Homo sapiens: one gene and its partners. Changing the gene in region 2 together with the main gene of any one other region gives a genetic interaction. Each region holds a gene or a part of one and is shown on either strand. Other genes may lie near its edges.

Evidence for each region.
Region 1: of HES1 (region 2) and LMO3, changing one suppresses a phenotype caused by changing the other (phenotypic suppression), as found in Homo sapiens cells (one study listed by BioGRID).
Region 3: of HES1 (region 2) and NHLH2, changing one suppresses a phenotype caused by changing the other (phenotypic suppression), as found in Homo sapiens cells (one study listed by BioGRID).

The regions. Positions count from the first base shown.
Region 1 is NC_000012.12:16,603,106-16,610,644, forward strand, and holds the start of LMO3 (LIM domain only protein 3), read right to left. Parts: upstream 3,058-7,539; 5' UTR 2,961-3,057; intron 2,866-2,960; exon of another isoform or gene 2,709-2,865; coding exon of another isoform or gene 2,663-2,708; intron 2,275-2,662; exon of another isoform or gene 1,785-2,274; coding exon of another isoform or gene 1,760-1,784; intron 1-1,759.
Region 2 is NC_000003.12:194,132,077-194,139,233, reverse strand, and holds HES1 (transcription factor HES-1), read right to left. Parts: upstream 3,087-7,157; 5' UTR 2,854-3,086; coding exon 2,746-2,853; intron 2,618-2,745; coding exon 2,522-2,617; intron 2,274-2,521; coding exon 2,186-2,273; intron 1,552-2,185; coding exon 1,001-1,551; 3' UTR 502-1,000; downstream 1-501. UniProt on the Homo sapiens protein: Transcriptional repressor of genes that require a bHLH protein for their transcription. May act as a negative regulator of myogenesis by inhibiting the functions of MYOD1 and ASH1.
Region 3 is NC_000001.11:115,838,127-115,845,474, forward strand, and holds the start of NHLH2 (helix-loop-helix protein 2), read right to left. Parts: upstream 3,001-7,348; 5' UTR 2,822-3,000; intron 2,578-2,821; exon of another isoform or gene 2,419-2,577; 5' UTR 2,090-2,418; intron 255-2,089; 5' UTR 247-254; coding exon 1-246. UniProt on the Homo sapiens protein: Transcription factor which binds the E box motif 5'-CA[TC][AG]TG-3'. Involved in regulating energy expenditure, body mass, voluntary physical activity, mating behavior and reproductive longevity, acting through the hypothalamic-pituitary-gonadal axis.

The DNA of each region.
Region 1 (7,539 bases), on a different chromosome or scaffold from region 2:
GATACCAACATTTGGCACAAGTAACACTACCCTACTTGTCTTCACAAAATGTTTTTGTTGTGTTGACATTTTAATTTAGCACTCAGAGGCCAATTAATATTTGAAACTCTTACATTCTGTTTGGCCTTGGGCATAAAAGGAGTTTGATATTTCACACTCCATCCTGGTACCTTATTTGAAGAACATCATGGCAATTCTCTTGAAAATGGAATCTCTTGAATTCCATGCAAGTTAACAATTGTAGCAAAAGAACTATTTTGTAGTCACCATGTTACCGTGTACTTAAAAGGCATAAAGCAGTCAGCAGTCTCCCCTCTTCCACCAGAAGAACATGTCTGGGTAGAGTTACGTGTTTGTAGCTAAGAAACATTTCACAAGTTGCTCATAGCACATCAGAACTCATAACTAGTTTTAGATTGGCATGTAAATTGTTCTGAGGGAAATTCTTATTGCCTCTGAGACCCTGCCATTCTGAGTTATTTGACAGTTTAAGGGAAATCATAATTAAAAAAAAGACATAAATAATAGCCTGTGCAGTGTGGTGTGCAGAAATAAGTAGAACCATTTCATTTAAACTCTGGTGAGCTTTTAATTGCCTGGATTGCATTGTGAAGCGGCCTAACGGTTGATTGCCTCCATTATGTTCCCTTGTTCTGTACCATTCATCCGCACAGTCTCAGCTTCAGTAGTTAACACAACAAAGTAACCACAACTCCACAACACACAGGGGTTTAAAAAAAATAATAATAATGAAAGATTTGCAGCACTTAGACACAGTCTTACATTTTTGGACTAACTACACAGAGTGAATAGAAAACATTTTGTCCGTCGGAAAATTCACAGAGAACAATTTGGGAGAGGGAAGAGGAAGAGGGAATACATAAAGGGGGTTGGAAGAGATGAGGTGCTTCAGAAAGATGCTAAAATGGGAATGCAGGTTCTGCAGCTGGGAGCATTGACACAGATTAAAAGAATTTGGCCAACATGGCCATTCGATTGCCAAGAGGCACCAGACAAAAGATTTTCTCTCCTCCTGCCCATCTTCATCCTCTTCCCAGCCCCCAACCCAGGTTGGAAAACTGGATTGGGCCTAAAAGCTTGTTTCTCTCTGTTCACTGGCCCAGAGCATCCCTACAGGCTGCAGCCCCCTAAGGGACAACAATGCAAATAGATGTCCCCAGATCTCAGGCACTGGAGCTGCTTAACTCTGTTCTGCCCCTTCAACTCCCAGCCCCCTTCCCTATCCTTCACCCCCCTCCCCTTTTTGAGCAATGGAGCTGGGAACCAATTTGATTCCCTTTTTCTCCAATGCAGCTGCAAGGCTCAGAGATACTGACATTTTTCCACTCTTATCAGTTTAATTACAGTTACCATGGCAGCAAAGTGCTAGTGCTTGGCAAAGGCCAACAAGAGATTTGCAAGACTGAGTTCAATTTTGATGCAGCTCACATGCAAAATAAAAAAAAAAAATAAGAAACATACATACACTCTAACAAAGAATCCCTTGCGGAGTTTATGCTCCAGCCTTTTGTGGTTGTGTCTTTGCAGCCACACAGGGATGGTTTGCAAAGAATGTAGCAGTATTTGTTGCATCTAGCAAGATTAATTGGTTTAAGCAGCAGTCTTTCAAAGCAGTTACAACAATAATATTTCGGTTCTTTCAGAAAGACACAAAAGCAGCGGAAAAGCAGAAAGGCTTTTGAGCGGCCAGGAGTGCAGAGCGCCAGCAAAGTGCATCTATGATAGACTGTAACCTTACCAAAACTTTTCTCCTTTTTCTGCATGAGTTGACTTAGGCGTGTCTGAGTTGCAGCAGCTTCGCATTGAGCACCAAACCCAAAGGTAGAAGTAGAAGGGGGTCTCCTTGATTTCGCTTAAGTGTGGACCTGGTGCGCAGCCTACACCGCCGAGGACCGACTATTGTGAAGCCACTTTGGGAGCGGGTCGGAGTGGCGGCAGGGGGTGGGGGAAGGGATGAGGACGGCCAGACAAGACAGGGCGCACACACGGAGCCCCTCGCAGTGTGCAAAATGATGGCGAATGACAAAGCCACATGCTTCCCTAACTCTGCCCGTAATCCTAAAATCCCAGCGGCCCCTTTTAGCTTCCTGGTAACAAATGGATTTGATTAAACTGTCACATGCAGCGTTAGCATAGCATATCATGTTCAATATGAAAAAGATCATAAATCTGACTTGTATTTCATAACAGCAATCTGAGTAGTCCCCGTAAAAAATGTGCTGCATCAGTTTGAATCTCAATCTATTAGGATATAGGCACCTTGGTCCAGGGACCTTCCCTCTTCTAGCCACTTCTGCCCCTACCCGCCTGCCCCCCCCCCCCGCCCCCATGCCCAAACACAGCCACTTTTCCACGGCAAAGGAACAACATTTTGTTATTATGGCTGCGTGGAGAGAGGCAGAAGCGTCAACAAGGACCAAAAGATTGTAATATCAACTCTTTAAGAAGTGGGGGTTCATGAATTCCAGCAAGTAAGGGGGAGGGGTCCGGAAACCCACCCAGGACTGAATTCTTTTCCTATGGGCTGGGAGCAAACACTTCCTAATTCCAAACTCTCCCTGCCCCTCTCTCCCCGGGAGTCAGGGGTGTGGAAATACTGCAGTTCATGGTGAACTTTGACTATTATCCACTCGAGTCGTACTTGAGACGTTCCGCGCCGCAGCCGCTCTCCCTCCTTCCATCAACATCTTCCGCCTGCATCTATTTCATGTCTCATCATAAAAATAATGAAGCCTCACATGATTTAAACAAAACCGTCTCAGTAGAGCTGCAGCCCGAGTGAAAGTTGCAGTGCGGAGCTGGGTTGCAGCTCCAGTTTATGCCTCATTAGCAGAGGTTGGGGAAGAAAAAAATACCCACATCCGCACACGCACGCGCGCACCCGCAGACACACACACCACAAATAAGCCGACGCGTGTGTACACAGTTGCTGCACTTACCTTCTCAATTAAGCGATACAGGGGGAGGCCGTTCAGTAAGCACAGTGGCTGCTTTGTAGCGCTTCTCCTTGGGAAAGGTCAAAAAGAAGCATTGTTTGAAAAAAAAAAAAAAGACGGGGGAGGGAATGTCTATTTTTTTTTAAGTTTAAAATAATGAGGTCCTCAAGGATACGCCAAGCAATGGTGTTGACCGCATCTGAGCCACAGGTGTCCTCCTTTTAGGCAACTGCAGTCCGAGGCTGTCTCTCTCCGTCCTGGTTCAAGACAACTTACCCCAGCAGCGTGCGAGGAGCCGAGCTGAAGGAAGCTCCGGCTCTCAGCTGCAAAATGCAATCCCTTCCCAGCCAGACATAATACAGCCAAAGAAAAGGTCACTCAGTTATTAGTGAGCCGGCGGAGCCCAGGCAGCGCTTGTCAAGACCACAGAGAAGCAGCTCCCTTCCGATTTAAGACTATTTACCTCTCGCCCCCACCCCTCCCCTCTTCTTTCCTTCTCTCCCTCCCTCTCTCGCTGGCTCCCTCGCTCGCTCTCGTGTGCCTGTTCTGCAGCTCAGTCAAGTACAGCCGCCCTCGGAAAGTGCAAAGCAGCCACGAGACAGATCGGGCTTTGTTGCTAATTTCCCAGGGTGAAAATTTACAAGCCTGCGAGTGCAGTCAGCACAACCACATGCATATGCTACTCACAAACGCTGGGGACAAACCCGCACACAAAATGTGACCTCTGCAGGAGTCGACTGAGGAAGGACCCTACCTCCTGGACCAGTCCAAAAGAAGAACTCCTGCGAGAGAGCTCCGGAGGAAAAGGGTAGGGTTCCTAAAATAACCAGGGCATTTTGGAATAGGTGGCTACATTTAAAGCAAATTGCCTTCCAAAGCCATTTCTGAAGCTACCAATTATGGAAATTAAAATAAAAGCAAGAGAATCAAACTGCTACCAGAATACCCTGGAAAAAGCACACAACCCTCCCCTTTAAGAAATGCCTGGAGGTGGCTGCAGTCGCTGGTCTGTCTGTGACTTCCATTCATGAACTCTCTGAAGTCGCTGCTCCGCAAGTCCGCCACACAAGCCTGGTTCAGGGGATCACACACACACTCTCCTTCCTCCCTTCCTCCCTTCCTCTAATGGCCCAAGACCCAAACTGTGAACTTGTTCTCCATTCACTAATGCTGACCCCCACCACCACCACCCCGAAACACACTTCCTGCAATTACTTGAATTCCTTACTATTTAAAACTCACACGCTCCAATGAAAAACAGCCAACAGCACTGAGAAACATGTTTTCAGGACTAACTTGGTCAAAGAACCATAGTTTCTGCACCATTACTGCTTTGTCTTCACAGGCTTGTTTTAAGGCCTTGACAGATTTTTTTTTTTTTTCTAATAGGTCCCATTCTCTCTAACCTCCTCTCCTCTTAACTTTCCTTGGCATCTATAAAGGCCACTGGTAGCTTTAAAATACCTTATTATTTTTCTAAGTTTTCAAACTTCAAAGTCACCCTCTGTTTGGGCTGCTCTTAAAGTACCCTCACCAGATTTTACAAAGCTTTGTCAGAGGTCAAGCTTAAAAATGGTCCACATTTGAAAGACACTCACTGAAATGTTTAAGAGCCAAGAAATATTCAATTGTTGAACTACAAAAAACTTTTTTTCTTCTCTTCACCATCAGTTTTAATCTAGCTCTAGTTTTAAAAAAAAAATCAAAGCACCCCCCCCATGAGTATTTAAGCTAAATTTTGTTTTTCTTCATAAAGAATAAAGGCACAACATTGATAACTAGTTTTTACCCCCTCCCTTTTGAAGGCTCATAATAAAATAGCCTGTGGTTTGCTTTCCTCTCCCTTTAAAAGGCAACAAAACTCAGAACTAACCTGAAAAATAACGATATTCACAGACGGTAGATTAATGAGAACCCCTTAGTTGACTTGTTCTGTACATAGGCAGATTTCTTAAGTTTGGCTTTTCTGGCCCGTCTAGGCAGGCATACATGCACTTCACCCATCCGCACAGCTCCCCACTGTTCTACCCCACCTCTCTGCTACAGCCACTCTGAAAACACCCCAGTATGTGTGAGTGTGTGTGTGTGCATATGTGTGCATGCATGTGTGTGTGTCTCGTGCGCTCTGTCTCAGCCAATGCACTGAGAAGAAGAAAAGAGGGAGGGAGGGAGGGAGAAGTATGTGTGGGGAAAGGGAGAAATAAAATCAAAACAAATGGTACAGCTAATGAGGACAATTAAATTAATTATGTTCAAGGAGATGAGATTTTTTTTCCCTCCAACTGTATGATCTGTTACCCCTCGCTGGCAACTGCTGCTCTGTAATTCATGGCAACTGATTAGTGCATCTATGCAAATCTTTGTTTAAATCATTCAACTAATTAAATGATGGGATTATTCCTCTGCCTACGGTGACATCATTCGCGGTAATTAGTACTCTATTTGGACTGTGGCAGTAAGATTCCTGATATCAACACCAACCTGCAAAGACATTAACCACTTTGTCACCTTTTTCTTAAGGGACAAACACCCAGATCTCTAAGTGCATCCCATCCTCTTCCTTTTTCCCCAATCTTCCTTTTCCTCTCAATTTTACCATTTCCCCCACACTTATAAGCAAGTAATACTGCCAAGCAAGGAGGAGAGAGAGAGAGAGAAGGAGAGACAGAGGAGAGAGAGAGACAGAGAGAGAGAGAGGAACTTAGCGAATAATATGCCAAACCACATGTGTAAAGGAATAAAATGGAATAGTTAACATTCAGCTCCATGCCATTCATTTTCCCCTAAAATGTAATGATAATTAGATGGGTCATAAAATGCTCTTCTTTTCATTATGACTGATGAAATGCATTAAAGCTGACAGGGTATTACCTGACAGTAATTAGGTTTTGTCATGAATTAAATTATTTGAAAGCAGGCTATCTCCCCAATCACGCAATTTACAGCAAGATTTTTTTTAATCTGTGCTACAGAAGGGAGAGAGATAGAAAATAGCAGTTTTTCTCTTCATAATCATATGAATTATTCACAGAAAAAATCATCAGAAAAACCCCGTGCAGATGAAGAGGCTTGCCACTTAATGTACTGCACAGATGTGATCATCAGCGGTTGCCGACAATGAAATATACAAGTGCACACAAAGTGATCTGGTGAACAAGAGGTGGAATTTAATCATCTTCTGCTGACACTTTGCGAAAAACACCATTAACCCTCAGCAAACTCCCTGTTTTCCTGGCTCCCCCCAACCCCAAAGTCTCACCCCTCCCGCGAGGGAAAAAGTGAAAGAAGAATTTGTGCTTTTGTTTACTCAGCCAAGCTAAAGGTTGGATCCAGCCAGGCAAGCAGTTTCTTCATTTCCTGAGAGTAAACTACCCAGTTTAATTACAGATCCTTTGGAAATCTTTGCGAAAGGATTGCTATAAAGAGCCAGATCTTTTTGGTCCGATTACCTTTTGCCTGTGCCCTCTTTCTGCAACTCATCATCAGACGTTTGATGAGAGAATTTACTTCATCCAGCCCCCATCCCAACACTTATTAAAGGAAAAAAAAAGGCAGACTGTCTTCTTCAGGGGTCTTATATTGTGATACCTTGATGAGGGGAAAAGGGGAGGGGAATGACAAAATGGGGTGGAGGAGGGTGCTGAGGGGGTGATTAGATATATACTACTTACCTTTGCCCAAAGGAGATCTCCCACAAGAAAATAGTGTGTATATATGTATATTTCTAAACACGTCTTCAAGTTTTCAGCTGTTTCTTTCTTTAAAACACACCTCACAGATTACTTTTGTGTGCGGGTGTTCAGTTACGATTTCTGTGGCGTCCCAGAGATGCTCCGGTTAGGTTGCCGTCTTTTTTTTTTTTAATTTTTTTTTTAGGGCAGCAGACAGGTTGTTGGGGGGAGGCAAAGGATAGCACACCCTGAAAGTCCAGGAGCAGTGAAAGGTCTCGGTCAAGGGAAGGATGAGGTTGATACTGCCCCCACCACACACACTCCCACCATCACTCTTCGAAATTCAGCAACACAAATGAAAGAAACCTCTGCTTCAGGCTTCCTGTCTTTCTTGTGTGCCTCTCCCTTTCTCACTTTCTTCCCGAACTGCATACAAAACCTGAGTGGGCCAGAGCTGCTCCTCCAGTATTTAAACACCTCGCCAGGTCCCTAGTTAGCAGCTTCCTTCAGCTCATCCAAGAAGCTGACAAGTACTGTTAGAGGAGGCTGTACATGTTGCTCTAATGGACCTCATTAAGTTCTACTTACAGATGTTCTCTTAACATAATTGATCTGCGGTGAGTTGAGAGGACTGCAACTTATTCCCTAGCCCCCAATTATGGTTGGGTAATTAGATCCCCAACCTCCAATTTTTCACATTCACCCTTCTAACATTCCAAAATATCAAAGTATCTCTCACCAAAGCTCCCCCTTACCGGACTCCACTCTACTCACTGTATTGACAGTTAGATCTGCTCTAACCTTTGTAGTGACGCCAGTTTTAATGGTGCATTCAGTCCATTGACAGAGCTGTGTTTTCTCCCCCAGCCTCTCTTCTCCTTTCCTCTCCACACTACCACCCCCACCCCACC
Region 2 (7,157 bases):
TTAATCATCTGGGCTCGGCCTCCACTTGGGAGTCTAACTAACTGTCCCTTGGCAGAAGGAATCTGTTGACCTTTTCAGCTTGCTTTAAGAGGGTGCGGAGAGGAAACTTTTGGGTGCTAGGGAACGTCTTATTTGAACCAAAGGATTGGCTAATTAATGAAGACCCCAAGTCTTGAAGGAGGCGCAGCAGTTGGAAGTGTTTTTGCTTTGGATGCTGGTGAGCTACCCTGAGAGGAGAGCTGCAGGAACCACCCTTAACGTGCAATGGGCAATAGGATTGGATCCATTAGCTTCGTGAATTTAGTCCTGTTCAATCTTCCTCAGGAGGAGCTAGAAGAACAAGGGCTGCAGACTTACCCGACTGCAACTTAAAAACATTTTTTTTGGAAATCCTTTAAGAGACTGACCACAAGTTTATCAGGGAAGCCTTACCAGATGGCTGCTTGTAAAGTAAATGGAATTTAGTCTTTTTAGTTCATGGAGGATTGGTGAAAAGTTTGATGGATTTTTACAAATGTTCTTTTAATAACAAAAGAGTCAATTCCTGAATTACCAATTACATGTAATTCAAATTCCACCAAAAGCCTTTTTACATATTCTGGAAGAATCAGTTCGAAGACATAAAAGCCTTTACTTTTTTCTTTTATTATATTTTCTCAAATAAACTTCCCCAAAGGAAGATATTTTAAGAGCATTTTCAAACATCTTTGGCATCACATAAAAAAGAAATCTCGTGTAAAAAACGAAATGTCATCTGAGCTTTTATAATACAAAGGCGCAATCCAATATGAACATATAAAATATATACAAATATAGTGCATGGTCAGTCACTTAATACAGCTCTCTCTACAAAAAGTAACTTCTTAGAAATTAAAAAAACACAAAGTAACCACTTAATCAAAAAAGTCCTCTTCTCTCCCAGTATTCAAGTTCCTGTTTAGAGTCCGGAGGGAAGAGAGGTGGGTTGGGGAGTTTAGGAGGAGGGGTGGCCTGAGCCCCCTCAGTTCCGCCACGGCCTCCACATGGAGTCCGCCGTAAGCGAGGGGCCGCTGGAAGGTGACACTGCGTTGGGGCCCACGGAGGTGCCGCTGTTGCTGGTGTAGACGGGGATGACAGGGCCGCTGTGCGCGAAGGCCCCGTTGGGAATGAGGAAAGCAAACTGGCCATCGGGAGCCGGTACCACCTGGAAGCCTCCAAACACCTTAGCCGCCTCTCCAGCCTGGCTGCCCAGCTTGCAGGGGGCGCCGCCGGGAGGGGGCGCCGCGCCCCCGGGGATGGGCACGAGTGGCGGCGGCGGCGCGAACGGCGCGTGCTGGGGGCCGCCGGGTCCCGGTGGGGGCGGTGGCGGCGCCTGCAAGGCGGGGTGCGGCTGCCCGGGGTAGGTCATGGCATTGATCTGGGTCATGCAGTTGGCCAGGTGGCCGAGCAGCCGAGTGCGCACCTCGGTATTAACGCCCTCGCACGTGGACAGGAAGCGGGTCACCTCGTTCATGCACTCGCTGAAGCCGGCTCGGTACTTCCCCAGCACACTTGGGTCTGTGCTCAGCGCAGCTGCGGGCCAGAAAGAGACAGACGGGTCACCGAACGGCCCTGGCCCCGTGGCCACTGCCTCCGCCCTGGGAGGTCCCTGTGGCGCGCCTCCCTGACCATGCGCCCGTGAAACTGCCTCCGGCAGGGAGGGTGAGATGGGTTTAGAAAAAACCAGCCACCTCTCCACACTAGCGTTGCTGCCAAAAGCCGAGCCACTCCTTCCCGATTCCCTGTAGCTGCATTTAAACCTATCTCAGCCCCAGATCTGTCACCCCCACCCCCGCGCGCGATGTGACCTTGGACAATGCCTCCCAATCCATCATCCAAGCCTCATTTCCCCTTCTGCAACGGGAAGGAGTGCTAAACCAGTGACCCCCAGGCTCCACGCAGTTCCAAACCGCCACAGTCCTAAGTCCTTTCGCCCCTACCCGGCGCCCGCCACCCTCGCGGCTGCAACCTCTTTCCCTCCCTTTCCGGAACAGTAACAACTTGGAGTTGTGGCTATAAATAAGCCCCAGACCGTGGGAACGCAAGAGTGAGCCAAGGCAGTAAAATGTAGCTGAATGCCTCTCACAACCACGGGCGGAAGTCTGGAAGAAATCACCGCGAGGCGAGCGGGACGCCCGCACAGGGGGACGCGGCGAGCCGCCCTCACCCGTCATCTGCGCCCGCTGCAGGTTCCGGAGGTGCTTCACTGTCATTTCCAGAATGTCCGCCTTCTCCAGCTTGGAATGCCGCGAGCTCTGCATAGAGTAGGCAAGAAAGGAAAGTGAGCCCCGTGTCAGCTGCTTCAGAGTGCTGGGGGTCCCTCCTCCCGGCCACGGAGCGCAAGCATTATCTCTGGACCCCAGCGAATAAGGCCGGGCCCTCCCGCCTGGGAGAACGCAGTACCAGCGAGTGCCAGACCCCGCAGGGCGGGGGGTTTCACTCTTAGTAGCTGAGAAAGTGTTTGTTTTTTAATTAAAAGAGCGAGCAGCATTTCCCCACTTACATCTTTCTTCAGAGCATCCAAAATCAGTGTTTTCAGCTGGCTCAGACTTTCATTTATTCTTGCTCTTCGTCTTTTCTCCATAATAGGCTTTGATGACTGCAAATAAAAAAAAGAGTTCTGTGTTCCCATGGAATCTGCCATCCCGGGGTTTCAAGACAGAAAGAAGCCCCCCAACCCCTACTTAATTTTGAGGGGCTGCAAAGAGATACAGGTACCGCCCTTACCTTTCTGTGCTCAGATGCTGTCTTTGGTTTATCCGGTGTCGTGTTGACACTGGCTGGGGTAGCAGCCACCGGGGACGAGGAATTTTTCTCCATTATATCAGCTGGCATTTTCCTTTTTTTTTTTTTTTTATCTCTAGAGAATTTTATTTTTGGAGTTCTTCACGAAAAAGAATTTTTTGTTTGTGTCTCTTTTACTTGAGACTTTCACAAAACTACTGAGCAAGTGCTGAGGGTTTATTATATTTTGTGGCTACTTGGTGATCAGTAGCGCTGTTCCAGGACCAAGGAGAGAGGTAGACGGGGGATTCCGCTGTTATCAGCACCAGCTCCGGATCCTGTGTGATCCCTAGGCCCTGGCGGCCTCTATATATATCTGGGACTGCACGCGAACGGCTCGTGTGAAACTTCCCAAACTTTCTTTCCCACAGTAACTTTCAGCCAATGGGAGGAGGAGACACGCGGCACCGCTCGTGGACCGCGCCCCCCCATTGGCCGCCAGGCACAAGGTCTGGCGGCCAATGGCGCGCGCCTGAGCCCAGGGCACCGGAGGCTACAACGTCAATCAAAAGGATTTTAACCCTTTGCTACTCTCCCTCTGGGCTTTGGTTTAGAGATTTTTTTTTTCTTTCCGCTTTGGTCTTGATCTTGTCTATTTCTTTTGGAGCCAGGGTCTTTGCTCTTTATGCCCTCTCTCATATGTAACAGAGCTGCTTTGACTGTAGTAAGTTCATTTGAAACATATTTTTTTTAAAGGTATAAACAATAAAGAAAAAAACAGCAGTGGTTAAAAGGGGGCGGGGGGAGGGGGGGACGGGTGTAAGAATGTGAGTTACCGACACATCTAAAGTTCCCGCTCAGACTTTACATTCAGGAGGGTGAAAGTAGATGGTAAAGGAAAAGGGCCAAAAAAATTTTCCTGTTTCCATGCAGAAAAAGGAAAAATTGCCTTCTACCTCACAAATGCAGGTTTTTCGGAGCAAGGTAGTTCTTGAATCCCACCCCCACCCCGTCTTTCAGAAATTCCTCGTTTGGATTTGGGGCCTTAGACCCCGGGCTTCCCCAGGAAACAATCAGAATAATTTCCAACTGGGTGGAAGGAAACGGTATTTCAAATGAAAAAATGAACAAGGGGGGCTCCGAGGGCAATGACTCAGGGACTCGCGCCCTCCTTCACCACCCTTTCCCTTTTCATCCGTAGGCTTTAGGTTCTGCGGCGCGTTGAGGTGGCGGGCAAGGAAGCAGCCTCTCCCTCCTCGCCCCGCGGGCGGCCTCGGCCCCCGGCGCCCGCGGGCCCTTTAAGAGCTACACCAGCCGAGCTGCAGTTTGACATCAGCCGGCCGGCGTGGGCGCGCCTGGAGCCGGAGCACGTGCCAGGATGTTTTATTGCCGCCGCGGCTGCGGCCGGGCCGGGAGGATGTGTGTGTGCGTGCGTGTGTGAGTGAGTGTGTGTGCGCGCGCCCCGGGGGCAGGGAGGCGGGGGGCGGCGACGGGCGGCGGAGAGCGGGGGCCGGTTCCTGGTCCCCGGGAGAAGCCAAGAAGGTAAATAGCAGCTGCTGTGCTCGAGCCTGGGAAAACCCCGCCCCCTGCGCCTGGCCCGGGCTCATTGGCGCGCGCTGCGTGTGGGGGGTGTGTGTGTGTGTGTGTCCGGGGCCCCCTCCTCCGGCCCCGCCGGGCCAGGAATCCGAGGGGGCGGCGGGCTGGGAGCCGAGCCCCGGCGCTTACCCTCTCTCCCCACCCCCGCCTCCCCAGGCCAAGGTCAGCTCTTCCCGGCGGGGAGCGCACACCCGGGGTGGAGAGTGGGGAATTCTTCCAACCCCCGCCTCCCCACCCTCACTTTCGGGCTTGGGGTTTTCACTCGGCCGAAAGCCGCATTCGCAACAGCCCGGGGGCGAGGTGGGGGCCTCCAAGTTTGCTCCTCGCCCCCGCCCTCTCCCCGCGGGGCCCTGGGCGCCCGCCGCGGTCACGGGATGCCTGACCGCACTTAGGAAGCGGCCGGGTCAGCCTCCTGCCTCCGCTCGGCGACTGCGGTTAAAGCGGCTTCGCGCCGCCCGCCCCTTCCCCGGGTCCCGGGCGGCCGGGCCGCTCCCCCTCACTACGCCCGGGAGGCCGCCGGCGGGCGCCCGGGAGGAGGCGGGCGGCGCGGGCGGCTGCGTGCTGCCTGCTGGCCGGGCCGCGCGCCGGGAGGAGTCGCCGCCGCCGCCGCCGGGTGCCACGTGGCGGGCGCCGGGCCGGGAGCGCCAGGGCTCTGGCGGCGGCCTCCCTGGGGGATTTGCCGAGCCGGGCGGGCGGCGCGCACTGCCTGGGCCGGCCGGCCGCCTCCTCCGCCTCCCTCCCGCCTGCCCGGGTCGCCGGCCCCCGTGCCCCCACCCCCCCTCCGCCCTTCCCGCCGCCTGGGAGCTCGGCTCGCGGCTCCGGGCAGCCCGGGAGCCCAGCGTCTTGTTTGATGTGGCCTCCCGCCCCCTCAGCCCTTCCCGCGTCCCGGAGGCCTGGCGCACGGTTCTCAGACACTTCATTCCTTCCGGCCTCCCAGCTCCCCACTGAGATAACGTTGTCAATGATTTCGCCAGATCTCGTCCCGGATGAGATTCAGTGGTTCCTGACTCTGGGTGACCTTGGGCAAGCCCCCCTCTCTCTTTCATTGTGGAACACACGCGCAGTGTCAGACACTGTGTTAAACCCTGGGATTTCCACGGTGAGAGATACAGTGGCGGCCTGCTAGAAGTTGACAGTAAACTGCGGGGGCAGACAGACGCTGATTTTCTGATTGATGACTGGACATTCCTTTATTTTTCCTTTCTTTTCTGAGTTAGGTGGTGGCTTGAGAGATCAGGAGGACAGAAACAAAATATGAAACCATACTTGTATGGATAACAGTATTGCTGGTCTACCTGGGTTTACAGCAGTGAGTAAGACCGTTATTGCTCTCTGGAAGCTAACAGTCTAGAGATACATATAAACGTGTACAGCTGACATCTACGGATGGCCCAGTAAATTCCTCTGGGAAGTCGTAGGTTCAAGAGAGACGTATGTCTGGATAGAGGTAAAATGCTATGGAGTTTCAGGAGAATTAAGTTACTTTTAAGTTGGGGTACCTTGGAAAACTTCCTGGAGGGATTGGCCTGTGTACCTTGAAAAATAGGTAGGATTGGGGCATTGGGAATGTGCTTAGTCGTGGGCTGGAGAGGATGCAGGTACCCATGGTATTAAAGGCCAAGATCCTGGAACTTGAAGACTTTATTCAGGGAACATGGTCTGGAGCCTAGGGAATGTGAGGGACTGGAAGAGGCAGCTTGAGGCCATGTCACAAGCTCCTTAAACATCTTGCTGAAGGACTTTGGACCTTATCTTTAGACAGTGGAGAGCCATGAAACATTCTTGAGCAAAGAAGAGGCATCAGGGTTTCCCTTTAGAAAGATGGCTCTGGCAAAAGTGGGAGAGTGGATTGCAGGGCTTGGAGGCAGAAAGGGCAGTTAGGCAGTTCAAGCCAGTGAAGAAGGTTCCTAGGAGGCAGGTGCAGACTGACTCCCAGAGGCATCTGTCTACATCCAGCTCCTCTGGACATTGACCGCACGCTCTTGGGAACTGAGTTCAACTCAAACCTGCCTACCCTTTAATGCAGTGTTCCCAACCCCCAACCAGGAACTCAGGAACTCAGATTTAATTCCTGAGTCTAACTAAGGAATCATGGCTCTGACCGTATTAACCTAAGCCTCATTTCCACCTTCCAGGATAGTCCTCCAGTCTGCAACCAAACATTTCCCTCATCGAAGGCTTTGGTTTACTCACTGTTGCCCCTAAGGCTACTCTGAGATTTTTTTTAAAAAATGTTTTCTTACACTGCAGAGTGAGCTGTGCCCTGTCATGTTCTGAAGAAATGATGAACAATGCCTCCTTTGTTGACCTGCAACCTGGGCCAAAGGGGAAGGAATTTTCTTTCTTATTTTAAACAGATGGAAAAGTGGTGATGACAGAAAATTGTCTGTTGCTTTTGGAAAACGTAGGGTTTTCCTGTGTGGTGAAAATCCTCTTGGTGAAAGGTGATGAGCCTATGAAGTTACCCTCCTTTCTGCCATGGCCCCAATAAGCTTTGCAAGCTTCTTAAAATGCTTCTACTGAGCGTCTGACTTTTTAAAAACTTCCCAAATACACTGACCCAGATTCTTCTGAGGAACTAAACCCTTCCCGGGGAAGCATGTTAACCCTTTCCAGGTTCCCCCCAAATCTTTCAGAACCAGTGCCTGCTCTGCTAGGCTCTGCCAGGCTCTGCCATGACATTGACTGCTGTCTGCTGGTCGGCCCTCATTAACTACTGGGTTATGCCACTCCCTGCCCATTCTAAGAGACTTTTTCATCTGATTCTGTTCCCCACTCTTATTTGGTGCCCTGAAGGTGCATGGGGAATGGAATATGGT
Region 3 (7,348 bases), on a different chromosome or scaffold from region 2:
GTGGGCCGAGCGGTACTTGGCCGTGGCGCGCCGGCGGCGGCGCTTCTCCTCGCGGCTCAGCTGCTGCGGGTGCGGGTAGAGCGCGGCTCGGCTGCCGCCCTTGCCGTCGCCCTCGGCCTCCTCCACCGGCTCCAGGTCCGACACGCTGCCGAGCACCTTGGTGTCCGTGCCGCCCAGGGACTCCGGATCCGAGTGCGCCGAGCTGGGATGGTCCGAATCTGCTGCTTGGTCCGGACTCAGCATCATTTTGGAGGCTGAGGAGGGGTCGGAAAATTAATCAGTAAAAGGAATCAGGGTATTTTGCTGGAAGGATGGCTGCCGAGGCCTACCACGCCGGTCCTCCCAGCGGACGCGCGGCCCGGGCCCCCTCCCCACAGCAGGCCGGCGCGCGACGCGGGAGGGCGCCGATAGGATCTGGCCCGAGGGCGCGAGCCCTGCGCCTCGCCCTGGCGCGGGAGCCGGCGGGGACGCGGTTGACCCAGGCCGCATACTAGACTGGACACCTCGACTTGCAGACGGCCACAGCGGGCCTGTGGCCCTGGGCCTGGGGAACAACCGCAGGCCTGTGGGGTCGCGACTGGGTTTTTGTGCCTCTTCCGGCCAAATGCCAACCGCGCTATTCCTCCTCCCTCCCTTCGTCCCCTTCCCGGACAAACGAGCGATTTCGAACAACGAATACATCTGGGTTTTCACGGGGGCGGGGAGACGCGGGGTGCACTTCTCGCCCCGAGGGCCTCCGGCGAAGCAACCCGGCAGCCGCGGCGCCCGAGGGCCTGGCGCTGGTCTGGGGCTGCGCCGGGGGCGCCTGGCTCTGGGGTGCGGCCGGTCAGGAATCCCCATCCTGGAGCGCAGGCGGAGAGCCAGTGGCTGGGGGCGGGAAGGCTTCTTGGACCCCTCGCGCTTCTCCGAAATCGTAAAGAAATGACTAAACAAACGTGGGGGAGCCTTTAAAAAGAAAATTGACTCCGATGCCCTCGCAGGCTCCCGGAGCACCATCTGTCACGCAGACAGCCACACACATAGGGGACCTAGGGACACGGCGACGTGGGATCAGACAATGCGCCCGGCAGTCTGGCGACCACCTTGCGGGAAAATGCCGGCAGCCGGGCCGCTGAGGGAGGAGAGGATGCAGAGGGAAGGGAAGAGAAGGGAAGGGCCCGGGGCGGGGCAGGCGGGGACTAGCGGGTGCAGCGCGTGTTGTCCCGGCGGGAGCTGCATCTCTGCCGGCAAAGTTCGGGCGCTCCCGGAACCGGAGCTCGGCAGGCTGCAGCTGTCCCCGGGTGGCCTGGCCAAGTCCGGGCATGTCGGTGCTTAGCCTTCCTCTAACTTAACTGTGCCCTCTTGGAAACGCCACCTGGCCAGGCTTCTCTGGGGCGCCTGGAGCACTGGCCCGGACTGTGCGCCTTCTGGGAGGGGGCCGCTCAGAACCGCTGGGCTTCCGGGTAATTCGGGCTTCGAGAAAGGGCCCGGCAGGAGGAGAAAGGCCCCTGCAGGGGCTGCACGCACCGCCCCTGGGCGTCGGGAGTGAGGACCAGGCTGAGAACTCGGGGCCCCGGCGTGGGCAGCCTCCACGACGCTCGGCACGGGAGAAATCCGCGTCGGCGACGTATAGGAGCGTTTGCTTCTAGAGAAACAAAAGCAAGGGGATGGGTGATCGGTTCCCAGCACCGCACTTGCAGAGGAGCGAATTGGGCCAAAACAGCTTTAATTTCCCTGCGAGGAAATCAGGTCCTCTACGGCAAAATAAAAACAAATGCTCCCAGAGAGCTGCATGTGACTCCCTACGGGCTTTTCTCGGGTACGTTTATGAGTAGAACAACTTGCACCTACACAGTCAGCTTGAAAGGGCAGAAATAAATAGACGAGTAATGGAAAATCACAATAAGCCACTAAATAGTTGTAGTTCTGGTAAAAAGTTCCTGGGTTGCCCTCAAAGCACATTAAATTCTCCTCTAGATCTTTAAAAATATTCATAAATAGTATGCCGTGTATGCGTTTTATCTCTTTATGGAATGAACTGCATCTATAGATACAGTATGAATAATCTAACTTATTTCAAGCTGAAAAAAATTATTTAAAGGAGTCTTACCTTGCAAAAGCCTTTTTGATAATCTGTTCTCCAATCTTTAGAGTTAAAATTCCAAGGAATAGCGAGGGGAGATTCCGGAAAATATTAAAAGCAGCAAATATTTATTACATTCAAAAATGAAAAAGCAGCTGTCATCTCGCTGGTGTCCGCAGCGAGGGACAATAATATCTCAGGATGTAGACGATATGAATGATTGTTCACTTAGTTGATAGATTTTTTAAAAAACGCTTTTTCCTTTTAATTGTTCTCAAACATTGCAAGAAATTCGTTGATGATTTTTTTAAACGATGTGTTGAAAAGTCTCGTGCCTTTTTTCCTCTTCTAGGTCTCTAAAAATAACAAAAGAGATGCAGAGATAAACACAATCACATCAAAGGGCTGATTCCTCCACTTTCTAATAGCGGAATAATCAATAAGAAAGATGGTTAAGATAAGATTCCGCTCCTATCGTATGCCTTTCTTTTCCTTAATACGGCTGAGCAGAAACTGGGAAGTGCAGGACAGAGATGTGATCTTGCTCAGAAGTGATTTTTTTTTTTTTTTTGAGATAAGGCTTTGTTCAGCTGATATCTCCCCAGTTCCCAGGAACACAATACTGTAACTAGGAGCTAAGGTTGCCTCTTCCTCTTCCCTCACTTACTTGTATGTTGTATAAATAGACACCTATTTTCCAGTTTCAAAGTCTTTCAAGGTTTGGCTATATCCCCCGTCCCCAGCCCCTCTTCTCTTTACCTTGTAGCAAAATATATATAGTCAGTGGCTTGGAGATGCTTGGAGAAAGGTTGGTGAAAAGTGAACGTCTCCTGGAGTAACAGTGACAAGGAAGCAGAGAAAGACGGGAAGAGGGTGGGAGAGCCAGAGCAAAGAGGCAGAGATGCGTGTGTGGCTTCTGGGCTCTCCTGGTACCAATTGATTCAGCCTGGAGATGGTGGAAGAGATAAAGGCTTAGGAAGGGGGATGGAATTTTTTTCCCCTAAATTGATATTTAATGGGAAATCCTATTGGACAGAAACCTGGACATGAGTCACTTAATTGGACTTGACATCTGTCACAGTGTGGGAGTTTTCACAGCCCAAATATTTTAGCAGATCAGATTCCCACTGAATCTGTGCCATAAAATATAACAATTGAAAAGCAGTTCATGATAGAAATCTTAGCCTCTAAACAGTATCTAGCCGTAGTCAGGCTATTTCTCTTTTCCAGATTATTGATGAAATATTTAAGTACAAATAAACAATATATTGACTATCAAAGAATTCCCCTGGCATATTACAAAGCCACCACTTTCCCTTAATATTTAGAAAAATATTTGTGTCCAGAACATGGAAATATATACTATATAAGATGCTGCAATAAAGTATTTAGACATGCAACAGCCAACATTTATTAGAGATCATTTACATTTTAAAAGATACTTCAGTAAGGTTTGATTAAGCATATTAACATTTTTGAGAAATGATCTGCTATGAGACTAACTTATCAATAGATGGTAAGAACCTTTCAATAGATTAAGCCATTGGTGGAACTAGAAAGAGAATCCACATATTCACGGACCACGACATGAGATAATTCTACTTTTCTGTATGTTTGTTTTTCTCTCCACCCACTCATTCATTCAAGCTGAAATATGACATGCTACATGTGTTGATTATTGCACTTCATTCTTGCCCATCTTAACATGCTAATATATTGTACTGCGTGGCAGTGCTTGTGCCAAGATGTAAACACAAATTACCAGTGTGTCCCAGTACATAATGCCTTTGCCTTACATGATCCCATGGCCCTGAATTTGTATACCTTATAATAAAAAATAAAATCTAGTTCAATTATTTTGCCACTTTATGAAGATACTCATAGTTAATATCAATAACATATTATTTGTGATTATTTTAGCTTGTTTTGATCATACAAGCTTAAAGAAATAAAAGAGCATTACAGCCTTACTCCCACCCCGCCAGTTCCTAGGGGAACATTTGTGGAGAGAGGAGTCCTCACTTGTCTTCCTTAATTTTGCCCTAAAAGCAGATTTTATCACCAGGGGAGGCACATTGAGCAGCCCACCCCTGGGAGTGACCCTCCGGGTTTTTCATGGCTTCCACAAGTACTATTTGCCTTTGCCCACATTTTTGCTCCTTTGAGAGATTCCTGGACCACAATGGGGCAGGGGTCGGGGAAAGGAGGGAGTGCCTCCAACAAATAAGGGCACCAACACTCCCCAGCCTTGCTTCTGCCTAACCCCAGCACAGAGGTATATTTTAGATATCCCCAGAACGTTAAAGTGAAGATGGAAGCCGGTCCCATACAGGTGGCAATGGAAATGGGTGAGTGGATAAACACCCCAAGGTGGTGACAATGAAGGGAGAAGGGAGGTTTTCTCACTCTAGTTAGGAACAGCCAATGCTAAGCATTCACACACAACCAGAAGTGTGCACACAGATGCACACCCACAGACACCTGTACCTCCTCCCCCTTCATCATACAAGCTGGCTGGCTCTATTAGACCACCACACATCCATACTGATGGATTGAAAAAAACTGGTGGGTCTAATCACCATAGCTCTAGAGTGGGCAGCTGCTACAGTGGGAAAGGACCAGCATCTCTGGTTCCCCTGGTGTTGGGGAGTCATGACAGGGTGTGCCTATCAGGGCAGGTCCAATTCTGCTATGGTGTGTGTGATACCAGACAAATTCCCTTTTATGTTCAGGCTTACTCATTCTATACCAGCAGCCAGCATACACAAAAATTAATGCTTACAGAAGTAAGCCTGTATAAACAGGTACACACTCAGATCCATACTTAGTGATGCCTAGCCACACTGTCATAGACACAGACATGGATTCACATTCACACACACACATTCTTTCTTCCATCAAAGCCTCCCCCTCCCCCACCCCTTTGCCTTTTCTAAGACCTCCCTGGCACAGATGGCCCCTCCTTCTGTGCTCCATAAGCACTCCTTTCATGTCTCCCTTAGAGACTACATATTGTGTACCGTGATTCTTGGTTCTTGGTTACCACACTGGTCTCTCTTCCTAGGCTATGATGCTTCCAGGGGAGGTCTGTAGCTTATATCCCCAGCACTAATGTCTGAGCTTGACACATTATAGGTACTCAGTTCATTTATGATGTGACTCTATGTACAGAGGTACCCCAGATATTTGTAACATAGAAACGCTTCCACTAAAGGACACCCATGGTTCAGTTCTATCAATTTTCTTTCCTGTAAAAATGAGAATAATAATATTGCACTTCTCATTTCACAGGCTCGCTATGAGACCCAATGTATTTGAAAATATTTGATGAAATAGTAAGCACCATACAAATTATGATATTATAGACTATAAGAGTAATATTAAATAATATTATTAAATGAATGGGGAGGTGATAAGTAGTGACTTAAAAAGTCCGGCTTTGTGGCTCTGTCATATGCTAGCTGTGTGAATTTAGTTGTAAGTTACTTAACCTTTTTGGACCTTAGTTTTCTAATCTGTAAAATGAGAATAATCAAAGCATGTTATGTAATGTTATGTCATGTTTTTTTCTGAAGGTGAACAAGATAATATATGTAAAGTGCTTAAACTAATGCCTAGAACTCATGTTCAGTAAGTGTTGGCTATCATTATTATTATTATTCAGTATAAATACATATTGAGGAACAGATATATATTGACATAGAAAAATAAACATATCCAGATATACTCACCCGTGTGTGTGTGTGTGTGTGTGTGTGTGTGTGTGTGTGTGTGTGTGTGTCTGTCCATAGCTCTGGTGGCCAAACTACAATGAGCATTTTCCATGTGTCAGACCTAGGTATAGTGACTTTGCTCATATTAACTTATTTAACCTTCACCACAAACCTGTGAGGTAGGTAGGTACTGTTGTCCCGATTTTGTGTATAAGAAAACTAGGACATGGAAAAGATGGTAATCTACTCAAGGTCACATAGCTAATAAATTATGGAGCTAAGATAGAGATTCAGGTGGTCTAAATTCAGAAACTGCACTCTCAGACACAAAGTACTACTGTTTCTGTCATTGTATCCTACACAGATATACTCACACAGAACTATTCACCAAAATGCATATGGCAAGGGAGAAATACACGTACACACAAAACTTAGATAAATGGCCACCTTTGCATTCAGGGGTGGTTAGTGAGTGATATGGTTTGGCTGTGTCCCCACCCAAATCTCAACTGGAATTGTACTTGCCATAATTCCCGGGTAGGAGGTAATTGAATGCTATTCTCATGAAAAGAGTAAGTTATCATGAGATCTGATGGTTTTATAGGGAGCTTACCCCTTTGCTCAGCTCTCATTCTTCTCTCTCCTGCTGCCTTGTAAAGAAGGACATGTTTGCTTCCCCTTCCATCATGATTATAAGTTTCCTGAGGCCTCCTTAGCCCTGAGGAACTGTGAGTCAATTAAACATTTTTCCTTTATAAATTACCCAGTCTCAGGTATGTTCTTATATCAGCATGAGAATGGACTAACACAGTGTCAGTGTAGTTTAAATACTTACTGCACATCTAGTGCTTTGCCAGATACTGTTGGACTACAAAGGCTTTGTAATTATTTGTTACTTTTATGAGACATCTGTTTCCAACCTATTTTTTAAAATTTTGTACCCCATAGATAAAAATTTAGGGCATACATACTGAGTATATGTATATTTATATGTATATACCCAATTATAACTACATAATATACTAGTACAGTAGTACATGTATAAGCTTTGTACATGTACTACTGTACTAGTATATTATATAATTATGATATACAAAAGATAAGCAAAGATATGATAAAAATATTTATTTTAAAATTTGTAAGTATTTATCAATAGATACATTTATAAATTTAAATATTCATATTTATTATTAAATATATGATAAACTTAAAAATAATATTAATAAACTAATTAATTTTATTTATTAACAGCACAAAAACCAATTAACAGCATAAGGTTTTATTGATCATGTATAACTTCTGAGAGCAATAAGCTTAATTTTGTTAAACTCATTGTTTAACCCTTTGAGATAATGATTTGATCATCTGGTTTTAAGATCAATTTATTTAGAATCTGTTTTTTGGCTGATATAGCAGAAAGAGATGTAATACAAAAATTCAGATGGTATCACAAAATATGATAAGCATGTGAAGTGATGGATATGTAAATTAGCTTGATTTACTCATTCCACAGTGTAAACATATATCAACACATCACATTGTACATCATAAATGTATACCATTTTTATTTGTC